Homo sapiens: one gene and its partners. The protein of the gene in region 1 purifies or fractionates together with the protein of each later gene. This does not show direct contact. Each region holds a gene or a part of one and is shown in the gene's direction. Other genes may lie near its edges.

What was found.
Region 2: the proteins of KANSL2 (region 1) and SETD1B purify together in Homo sapiens (affinity purification with mass spectrometry, with the first as the bait; one large-scale study listed by BioGRID). This does not show direct contact.
Region 3: the proteins of KANSL2 (region 1) and ZNF608 purify together in Homo sapiens (affinity purification with mass spectrometry, with the first as the bait; one large-scale study listed by BioGRID). This does not show direct contact.

Annotation. Positions count from the first base shown.
Region 1 is NC_000012.12:48,672,171-48,675,823, reverse strand, and holds part of KANSL2 (KAT8 regulatory NSL complex subunit 2), read left to right. Parts: intron 1-3,653. UniProt on the Homo sapiens protein: Non-catalytic component of the NSL histone acetyltransferase complex, a multiprotein complex that mediates histone H4 acetylation at 'Lys-5'- and 'Lys-8' (H4K5ac and H4K8ac) at transcription start sites and promotes transcription initiation.
Region 2 is NC_000012.12:121,820,953-121,824,605, forward strand, and holds part of SETD1B (histone-lysine N-methyltransferase SETD1B), read left to right. Parts: intron 1-1,537; coding exon 1,538-2,797; intron 2,798-3,653. UniProt on the Homo sapiens protein: Histone methyltransferase that catalyzes methyl group transfer from S-adenosyl-L-methionine to the epsilon-amino group of 'Lys-4' of histone H3 (H3K4) via a non-processive mechanism.
Region 3 is NC_000005.10:124,739,987-124,743,639, reverse strand, and holds part of ZNF608 (zinc finger protein 608), read left to right. Parts: intron 1-2,247; exon of another isoform or gene 2,248-3,653. UniProt on the Homo sapiens protein: Transcription factor, which represses ZNF609 transcription.

The DNA of each region.
Region 1 (3,653 bases):
ACCAGAGCAAGGGGAATTAGTACATAATTTTAATGTCCGGCTCTGAAAGTCTGGCGCATTCATCTTTAAGTAAATGAGCCATCTGTTACATGAACCAGCCGGCATTCATTTAGTAGGTTGCTTACTGCCCCCACCAAATGATTTCTAATAACTTCTAATAGTAATGGCTTCAGATAGGTACATTTCAGTTCCAGACCATTGGTTAAATTCTCTTCTGACAGGGTGCAGTGAAATTAATTTTTTAAAACAATTTTTATTTTTCTCATTTTCAGTATTCAAAAAGTGAATTTCATTTTAACAAACTCTATATTAGGTTAAGGCCTCAGTATTTTAGGTTACAGACAGGTTAATGTAGGCATAACCCATTTTTCTGAAGATGTAACTTAGTCACCTTGTGAAACCGTTATGTATTTATTTTTGAGACGGACTCTCACTCTGTTGCCAGGCTGGAGCGCAGTGGCACGATCTCAGCTCACTGCAACCTTTGCCTCCTGGGTTCAAGCAATTCTTCTGCCTCAGCCTCCCTAGTAGCTGGGACTACAGGCGCACGCCGCTGTGCCCGGCTAATTTCTTTCTTTTTTTTGTATTTTAGTAGAGATGGGGTTTCACCATGTTGCCCAGGCTGGTCTCAAACTCCAGAGCTCAGGCAGTATGCCCACCTCGGTCTCCCAAAGTGCTAGAATTACAGGCTTGAGCCACCGTGCCCAGCCAACTGTTACATATTTTTAAAGCCTTTTCACATTTTCTGATAGTCTGTTAGCTTTTGTCATTTCTGTAATTTGCTGGTTTTATTTTATTTTATTTATTTTTAAATTTATTTTTTATTAATTTTATTTTATTATATATTATTTTTATTTATTTATTTAATTTGTTTATTTTATTTAATTTTTTATTTTTGGAGACAGAGTCTCGTTCTGTCGCCCAGGCTGGAGCGCGGTGGTGCGATCTCGGCTCACTGTAATCTCTGCCTACCAGGTTCAAGTGATTCTCCTGCCTCAGCCTCCCGAGTAGCTGGGATTATAGGTGCTTGCCACCATACCTGGCTAATTTTTGTATTTTTAGTAGAGAGGCTGTTTTGCCATGTTGGCCAGGCTGGTCTCGAACTCCTGACCTCAAGTGATCCACCCACCTTGGCCTTGTGCACCACACCTGGCCCTTTGCTGGTTTTATTAACCATGTTTTGATTTTTCTTAATTTCTTTTCACTTTTACTTCAGAATATAGTTAAGTACCTCTTATACACAGGTAATATTGGCTTTTGTTTATATTTATGAAGAAATTTTGGCAGAAATTACTTGCTCTCAGTCCTAAAGTTAATTTTGTATATTCTGTGTATTTCAGTGCCTTAACAGCTAGTTTTTAAAAATAAAGCAGAGGCTGGCCACAGTGGCTCACGCCTGTAATCCTAGCACTTTGGGAGGCCGAGTCGGGTGGAATGCCTGAACTCAGGAGTTTGAGACCAGCCTGGGAAACATGGTGAAACCCCATCTCTACTAAAAATACAAAAAATAAAAAAATTAGCCAGGTGTGGTGGCACACGCCTGCAATCTCAACTACTGTGGAGGCTGAGGCACGAGAATTGCTTGAACCCGGGAGGCGGAGGTTGCAGTGAGCCAACATTGTGCCACTTCAGTGCAGCCTGGGAAACAGAGCAAGACTCTGTCTTAAAAACGAAAAAGTAATAAAGCATAATTTTTTGACTTAAAATTAGTATAATTTATGTGTTTTGCCTTTTCAATAAAATTTTTACTCAGTATGAAACTTAAGGTATATAGCTTGTTCTTTGTATTTATGTAATGATCAGACGGTGAGTGAAACAAAATTTTTAAAATTCAAAGTTATTCACTTATTTATTTATTTATTTATTTATTTTTGAGACATGGTCTTGCTCTGTCACCCAGGTTGGAGTGCAGTGGCGCCATCTCAGCTCACTGCAGCCTCCCACTCCCAGGCTGAAGTGATCCTTTCACCTCAGTCTCCTGAGTATCTGGGACTACAGGTATACACCACCGTGCCCAGCTAACTTTTGTATTTTTTGTATTGACAGGGTTTTATCATGTTACAGCCCAGGCTGGTCTTGAACTCCCAGGCTCAAGCAATCTGCCTGCCTCGGCCTCCCAAAGTGCTGGGATTACAGGCGTGAGCTATCACACCTGGCCTCATCTCTTAATTTTGATTGCATAAATCAGAGCCAGAGAACAGTCTACCATATATTAATCACTAGCAAAACTTTTAGAAGTTCTTTTTTTTTTTTTTTCTTTTTTTGAGATGGAGTCTTGCTCTGTCACCCAGGCTGGAATGCAGTGGCACGATCTCAGCTCACTGCAACCTCTGCCTCCCGGGTTCAAGCAATTCTCCTGCCCCAGCCTCCCGAGTAGCTGGGATTATAGGCGCCCACCACCATACCTGGTTGATTTTCGTATTTTCAGTAGAGACGGGGTTTCGCCATGTTGGCCAGGCTGGTCTTGAACACCTGACCTCAGGTGATTCGCCTGCCTTGGCCTCCCAAGGTGCTAGGATTACAGGTGTGAGCCACCGTGCCTGGCCAGATATTCTTTTAGTTTATAATTGGCAGCAAAGCTTAATCAAGTTGATATGGATCCGTGCCAGATCTTTGGCAATTAAGGGTTAACCTAGGGTACTGAATTTTGAGAATATTGTCAAGAAAATTAGCTGAGGACAGGGTATAGCCCATTTTGACTAGTTATTTGAGGGTCCATATGAGCTCCAATATAGGCCTATATTTTTTAAACAATTACAAATTTTGGCTGGGCACAGTGGCTCATGCCTGTAATCCCACCACTTTGGGAGGCCGAGGCTGGAAGATCGATCTGAGGTCAGGAGTTAAGACCAGCCTGACCAACATGGAGAAACCCCATCTCTACTGAAAATATAAAAATTAGCTGGGCGTGGTGGTAGGTGCCTGTAATGCCAGCTACTTGGGAGGCTGAGACAGGAGAATCACTTGAACCTGGGAAGCGGAGGTTGCAGTGAGCCAAGGTTGTGCCACTGCACTCCAGCCTGGGTGACAGAGCAAGACTGTCTCAAAAAAAAAAATTATTTGATGTTGGTATCTTTAGTGCTTTAATTAAAATATATTGCCAGGTGCAGTAGCTTATGCGTTTAATTCCAGCACTTTGTGAGGCTGAGGCGGGAGCATCGCTTAAACCCAGGGGTTCAAGCCTGGACAACATGGTGAAATCCCATCTCTACAAAAAATACAAAAATTAACCAAGTGGGGTGGTGCACACCTGTAGTCCCAGCTACTCGGCAGGCTGACGTGGGAGGATCGCTTGAGCCCAGGAAGCAAAGGTTATAGTGAGCTGTGATTGATTGCACCACTGCACTCCATCCTGGGTGACAAGAGTGAGACCTTATCTCAAAAAAAAAATATATATATATATATATATATATACGTATATATATATATACATGTATATATATATACGTATATATACATGTATATATGTATATGTGAAAGATACATGTTAATTGAACACTTTAAAGCTGTCTTGACTGGTAAGTGATGATTTCATATCAAAACATTAAGAATGTAGATTAATAAAAGTTTAAAGTGTTCCGCATGTTCACTTTCTTTTCAACATAATGCAAATAGCTGGGAAAAATAAGACATTTCTCCTTCCCCCATTTTGG
Region 2 (3,653 bases), about 73 Mb from region 1:
GGGATGCGAAACCCACTGTATATGGAGGGCGATCGCCTATACGTGGGTTCTGCAAGGCAGACTACAAGCTTTGAGTATGTGCAGATTTAGGTATACCAGGGAGTGTTAGAACCAATTCTCTGTGTGTATTGAGGGACGACTGTGTTTTGTTTAATGTAATGTATTTTGTTTTGTTTATTCCACCATTAACCACAGTCTTTGAACATTGACTCAATACTAAGCCTCTATTGTGTCCCTGCTATTATTTTAGGCAGTAGCAATGCAACAGTGGACCAAACAGACAAAAATATCTGCTCCCACGGAGCAGGGGAACAGATGACAACAGATCAATTAGAAAATGAAAAACAGGTGGCAGGCTCCTGTAATCCCAGCTACTTGGGAGGCTGAGGCAGGAGAATTGCTTGAACCCGGGTGGCAGAGGTTGCAGCGAGCCGAGATCGTGCCACACTGCACTCCAGCCTGGGCGATAGAGTGAGACTGTCTTAAAAAAAAAAAAAAAGAAAGAAAAAGAAATGTGCCGGGCGCGGTGGCTCACACCTGTAATCCCAGCACTGTGGGAAGCCGAGGTAGGCAGATCAACTGAGGTCAGGAGTTTGAGACCAGCCAGGCCAGCATGACGAAACCCCATCTCTACTAAAAGTACAAAAAATTAGCAGGGCGTGGTGGCACGTGCCTGTAATCCCAGCGGCTTGGGAGGCTGAGGAAGGAGAATTGCTTGAACCTGGGAGGAGGAGGTTGCAGTGAGCTGAGATTGTGCCATTGCACTCCAGCCTGGGTGACAGAGTGAGACTGTCTCGAAAAAATAAAAATAAAATAATGTAAAAATAGAAAATGAAAAAGATGTATTCTGTGGTCGGGCATGGTGGCTCACATCTGTAATTCCAGCACTTTGGGAGGCCAAGGCTGGCGGATCACTTGAGGCCAGGAGTTCAAGACCAGCCTAGGCAACATAGAGCCCATCTCTACAAAACATTTAAAGATTAGCTGGGCGTGGTGGCACATTCCTGTAGTCCCACCTACTCAGGAGCCTTAGGCAGGAGGATCCCTTGAGCCCTGGCGGTCTAGGCTGCAGTGACCGTGATCATGCCACTGCATTCCACCCGTCTCAAAAATAAAAAAATAAGTAAATTCATTAAAAAATTAAGAAGTGTATCCTGTGACAGTGGAGATAAGTGCTAGGAAAAAAATCCTTGAAGGCTCCGACAAGTCCTGCAGAAAAGAGACTTGTTGAATTTTATTCAGTCATAGAGCAGATTTTCTTGGGCCACAGGGACTTTGTTCTGAAGACGTAGTATGAAAGGCTGGAATACATGTCTCCTGCATCTGTGATTTAGCCTAGCAACATTGATAAAGCACATACTGTGTGCCTGACACTGGGTTGGGCGCTGAGGAGTCCTTGAGGGGTTTAGCTGGAGAAGGACAGGTCCCGTGCTCAGACTCAGGGCTGTGAGCCTGCCAGGTATGGAGCACAAAATAAGGCACTGAGAGACGTTTGGATTGAATAGTAAATGTCTCGTGTTCGCTCACCTCTCTGCAGAACATGACCTGGAAGTGGAGCCGGAGCCCCCTATGATGCTCCCCTTGCCGCTGCAACCACCATTGCCGCCCCCACGACCACCCCGGCCACCCAGCCCACCGCCGGAGCCTGAGACCACAGATGCCTCACACCCATCTGTCCCTCCGGAGCCCCTTGCCGAGGACCACCCCCCGCATACTCCAGGCCTCTGTGGCAGCCTGGCCAAGTCGCAGAGCACAGAGACGGTGCCAGCCACACCAGGCGGGGAGCCCCCGCTATCAGGGGGCAGCAGTGGCCTGTCCCTGAGCTCTCCGCAAGTGCCCGGCAGCCCCTTCTCCTACCCAGCCCCGTCCCCTAGCTTGAGCAGTGGGGGCCTCCCTCGGACACCTGGCCGGGACTTCAGCTTCACACCCACCTTCTCCGAGCCCAGCGGGCCCTTGCTCCTGCCCGTCTGCCCACTCCCCACTGGCCGACGCGATGAACGCTCCGGGCCCCTGGCCTCCCCGGTGCTCCTGGAGACGGGCCTGCCCCTCCCTCTGCCCCTTCCCCTGCCCTTGCCCTTGGCATTGCCCGCCGTCTTGCGGGCCCAGGCTCGTGCGCCCACCCCGCTGCCACCCCTGCTGCCCGCCCCCCTGGCCTCTTGCCCTCCCCCAATGAAGAGGAAGCCGGGCCGGCCCCGGCGATCCCCACCATCTATGCTCTCCTTGGATGGGCCCTTGGTCCGACCACCAGCAGGGGCCGCCCTTGGAAGGGAACTCCTGCTCCTGCCGGGCCAGCCACAGACCCCCGTCTTCCCCAGCACCCATGACCCCCGGACGGTGACCCTGGACTTCCGGAACGCGGGGATCCCAGCCCCTCCACCACCCCTTCCCCCCCAGCCACCCCCACCCCCACCTCCCCCACCTGTAGAGCCCACCAAGCTGCCCTTTAAGGAGCTAGACAACCAGTGGCCCTCCGAGGCCATTCCTCCGGGCCCCCGTGGGCGCGATGAGGTCACTGAGGAATACATGGAGTTGGCCAAGAGCCGGGGGCCGTGGCGCCGGCCACCTAAGAAGCGCCATGAGGACCTGGTGCCACCTGCGGGCTCGCCCGAACTCTCGCCACCCCAGCCCCTCTTCCGGCCCCGCTCGGAGTTTGAGGAGATGACCATCCTGTATGACATCTGGAACGGTGGCATCGATGAGGAGGACATCCGCTTCCTGTGTGTCACCTACGAGCGACTGCTACAGCAGGACAATGGCATGGACTGGCTTAACGACACGCTCTGGGTCTACCATCCCTATATCCTGCTGGCATGGGGGGCTCTGCACCTTCTGGGATGCAGGAAGTCCCTGCTCACCTCTCTGGGCCCCACCACCCAGTCTGTAGCAGCCCGCGGTGCCCATGAAGGTGACAGCATGCACCACCGTCACTTCCCAAGCAGGGTTTGTGTCCCGGCACCATGCCAGGCTCCCGAGTGAATCATTGGCACGTTTTAAGGACTCCCTCTGCGCCAGGCCCATCTCACCCCCAGAGTTAGCAGGTCTCAGGGTCACATGTAACAGCAGTGCCGTGCAGCTTAACAGCACACACGGGCGCAGGGCCTCCTTGTCCTGTCCCCTTCATAACCTCAGGTAATCCCGGTAGCCTGGTGAAGATGGGGGCTATGATTCCCATTTTACATATGAAGAAGCTAAGGCTCAGAGAGGTTCAGTGACCTGTCCAAAGACACAGCTACAGGTGGCAGAGTTGAGATTTGAACCCAGGCAAACCTGGCTCTAGAGTCCAGGCTCTTCACCACCAGGCTTTCATGAGGCTTGGCTGTTCACATAGGCCAGTGAGGCTAGACCTCTCATTATCCCTGCTGTATTAGACTGATTTGTGAGCACTCAGTTTGTGTCAAGAGCTCTGCTCAAGTGCCGGGCACCATGGCTCACAGCTGTAATCCCAGCACTATGGGAGGCTGAGGCGGACGGATCACTCGAGGCCAGAAGTTTGAGACCAGCCTGGCCAACATGGCAAAACCCCATTTCTACTAAAAATACAAAAATTAGCCGGGTGTGGTAGCACATGCCTATAATTCCAGCTACTCTGGAGGCTGAGGCAGGAGAATTGCTTGAACCCGGGAGGCACAGGTTGTAGTGAGCCAAGATCGCAC
Region 3 (3,653 bases), on another chromosome or scaffold:
TTAGGTGCAAGGTTCAAGTTCCCTCCCTGGAGAGGAATGTCGAGGATTCGAATTTACATTCTACAGACCTCATCCCTTTTATTTTTTCTTACTGTCTCCAAAATAGTACTGTGAAAGGATATCCTTGAATGAGTTCTTGTTATTGGTCCTGAATGAAACCCCAAGCTTGATGTGTTGGGTCATTGGTTTCATAACTGCAGAAAAACTCGATGGTTTTGGTGGCTGTTAGCACTCTACCCCTGTTCCCTCACCCAGTTCTTAGCTAGAGATTTAAGAGTGTTATCACTTGGATACCTGACTGGGGAGCTGGACGGCTGCTAAGAAGAATAAAACAGACTTGCTGGACTGATACTCGTGAAATGTGAAAATGTAGCCAAAGGGGATGTAGACGGTTGAGTGAATTGGAATATAGAATTATGTGCTGCATTTAAACGGTGTGGATGGTTGATTTAGACCATTTGGACCCTTCTCCCCTTCTTTGTACAAGTCTATAGTTAGACACTGCCTTGGAAGAACTGCCTGCCCCGACACCCACACCATGTTTTGCTGCTTAGTCATAGACCACATTGACTAATGTTTGGGAACAGAAGGTGTTCTGTCCACTAGGCAGGTTGGGAAGGAGTTAGGGGTGTGTGTGTGATATTTCTATGAAATTAATCTTCATATTAATTCTACAGGTTGTGCCTTGCAGAAGCAAGCTTTCTGTCATGTGGGTTGTGGCATGGTTGTTGGGGAACATCCTTATTAAATAATTTTGATTTTTTTTTGCTATAGTTGGCGATTGGGATTGTAAGTGGTGATAATATGTCTTTGGAGAATTATTTCTGTGTAAAATGGTTCACTGCTACTTAAACTTTTATATTCTTGTTTTTGTGTTCAGGATTTAAGTTGGAGTATAGGAGTAAAGTTTTGATTTTTAAAAGTTGATAGAGGCACATTAAGGTGTAGATAATGCCAAATTTGCAAAATGCCTCCAAACGCTTATAAATTCATATCCTCTTGGTCAGGTACATTAATGAATATAAATGAATTTTTGAAAATTCCGGGTTTTGAGTCTTATATTTAAATGTGTAGTTTCACATTATTTCCGCTAAAAGGTGTTCTGAAATCTTCTTATTACTTAGTACAGTAGGGCATTTACTTTTGTTGCCAATAGTCTTCAAATTGCAGTTCTAATCTGCTTTAACTATCTAGATGAATTGCCCTAATCCAGTGCTCACAATGGCTGTGGTTAAGGAGTCAGAGCCATTTGATTGGATTCACTGGCTGCTTGGAATGTGGGAGGTACTGCCCTTTTGCATTCCCCTTAGCCTTTTAATCTTCCAGCCAAATGTTCACATTCAACAATTTTGTTTAGCTGGCAATCGGAACATTTCAGTATCTAAAAGGCTGCTGTCATGGCAACTGAGATTAGAGCGTGGTGTCGTTTCTCCAGTTTTTGTGTGTTCTTTTCACTTTCCAGTCACAGAGGAAACTGGGTGAAGAATGGAAGAATTAAATTATTCATATACATGCAACTCATCTTCAGTTAGAGCAGTATAAATGTGATAAATATGAATTACATAAATGAAGAGCAAACAAGTCATGGTGGATCTGGGGTGGGGGAGGGAAGAAAGCACACTGCAATTTAGATTCACTTCTGATCCTATACCAGAGGAAGCTGTGCCACCAATCTTAGCCACTGGAGTTGGCACAGGGGCCCCTCAAAGGCTTGGATCCAGGGGCTTGGATCCTGTAGTGTTGGCCATTCTCTGTCAAGTTGGGCGTTGGCTCAGGATCTCAAACATTATTCCTTAAGGCTTTCCTCCCCACCCCCACTTCACCCTGAGAATGACTTCTCTTAAGAATGCTTTCATCCTTGGCACACAGAAATGGCACTCCCTTGCATGAATGCCACCCAGGAAAGTAACTCTAATTCCACTAACTAGTGGTTGCATCAAATTAGGCATCAATTTAGAAAATGCTTCCTACTGATGTGAGAATACCTATTTAGAAAGTAAAGATTTAGTAGGACCAGAAGCTTCACCTGAAAAAATATTTCAACACTGAGGTTTTTTGACATTTTATACAGTGTTTTAATTTCCTTCAGCCTGGCTTGATTATCTGAGTTTGTGAAGAGTAAGTGCCTGGAGAGTGAAGATTATTAATTTTCAGCAATCAGATGTGGCTCGTGAGGGGCCACATGTGAAAACCAAAGGGGGGAGTGTATGTGTGTGTGCATTTTTTTTTTTTTTTTTTTTTTTTTCTGGTTGGAAGGTTCACAGGAGATTCATAAGACTTGCTGTCACCGGTTAATTTTCATAGCATGCATGCTTAAATGTCTATTTTTGGTCTGTTTATTCTGTTTCTTCACTACACAAAGTCATGTAAAACATGATAAATTGGACCTTATGAAACCTAATTAAATCAATGAGTGTTCTACTCCTTTATGTGGAAACCACAAGTATGTTGTAAAAGTCGCCACTCCCTTAATACGTGAACAAAATCAAAACATGCCATAATTCTAAGATGTTTGAGCTATATTTCTGTAGCCCATTTTGTGGTTAAGCCACCAGTGACATGTCTGAATAAGTAGATTTGATGGGTTGGCTTTTGGTTGTTAAAACCTGCCTCTCCACCTTCCCCTCCTTTCTTGTGAAGCATAATAGCCTTGTATTGAAGCTCTTCTTTATGTATCCTCCTAGCCATCTTACAGTTTTGACTTATCAGATAGGGAGGCATTCAGCTGGGCTTTATAAATAAACAGTTTATATGTAAAGTTGATGGGTTTATTTGATTTCTGGAAAATTCAAAAATATATACAAAAACTCAAAAATCCTAAAAGTGGCTGATACTTAAACAGAAGTGAAAGGCACAAGAGGTCATATAGTTGTGTCTCAATACCTATTCAGGGAAGAGAATTATTTCTGTAATATCATATTGCTTTCATTAAGATGGCCCTGGTCATAAAGGTGGTGTCTACAAATGGACCTGTCCATAAAGGATATCATTCATTTTATTTTATTCTTTTGTAGAGTCCTTTTTATACTTCACCAGGGAATTCTGGCACATTTTCTAAGTGAGTGTGAGCAGTTTAAGAACATATTTTGATTAATGAGTTTTGTGGACATTATGCTTTTTTTTTTTTTCAAATATAGTGTCCCATATGAATTCTGCCTAGAGTGTAGTGTATCTACTGTGAAATAAAAGGGCAGAGGGGTCACTTGCTATAATTAAAGAACAGAGTCCATTGTTGTCGGACAGCAAACTGTTTTGAAAGCTACATAAGAGGTTTAGCTGTTAAAGACGTTGGTAACTAAGGGTGGCGTCCAAATCAGCATTGATCCAGCTCCTTACTTTTCTATAGGCCTCCTCACAGGGTGACAGGGCTTTTTGAGGGAGGGGGCTGCCCTTTCCCCAAGAACACATGGAACTTAGGTATTTGTGTAATCAGACCCATCACTGAATTCTGACTTTGGTGTGTGAAATCCGTTTGCTTTGCTGGAGAGAGAAGGAATATGCATAACTGATCAAGATTGTCCTATAGGAGATAAATAATGTTTTGCAACTTTTAATAACTTTGCAAATAGTCTGTAAAAAACGGTGGGGGGAGGGATTGATAGTCCAAATGTCGTGAGGTTAAGAATGCTCTTCAAGTGAAATTGCTTGGCTGC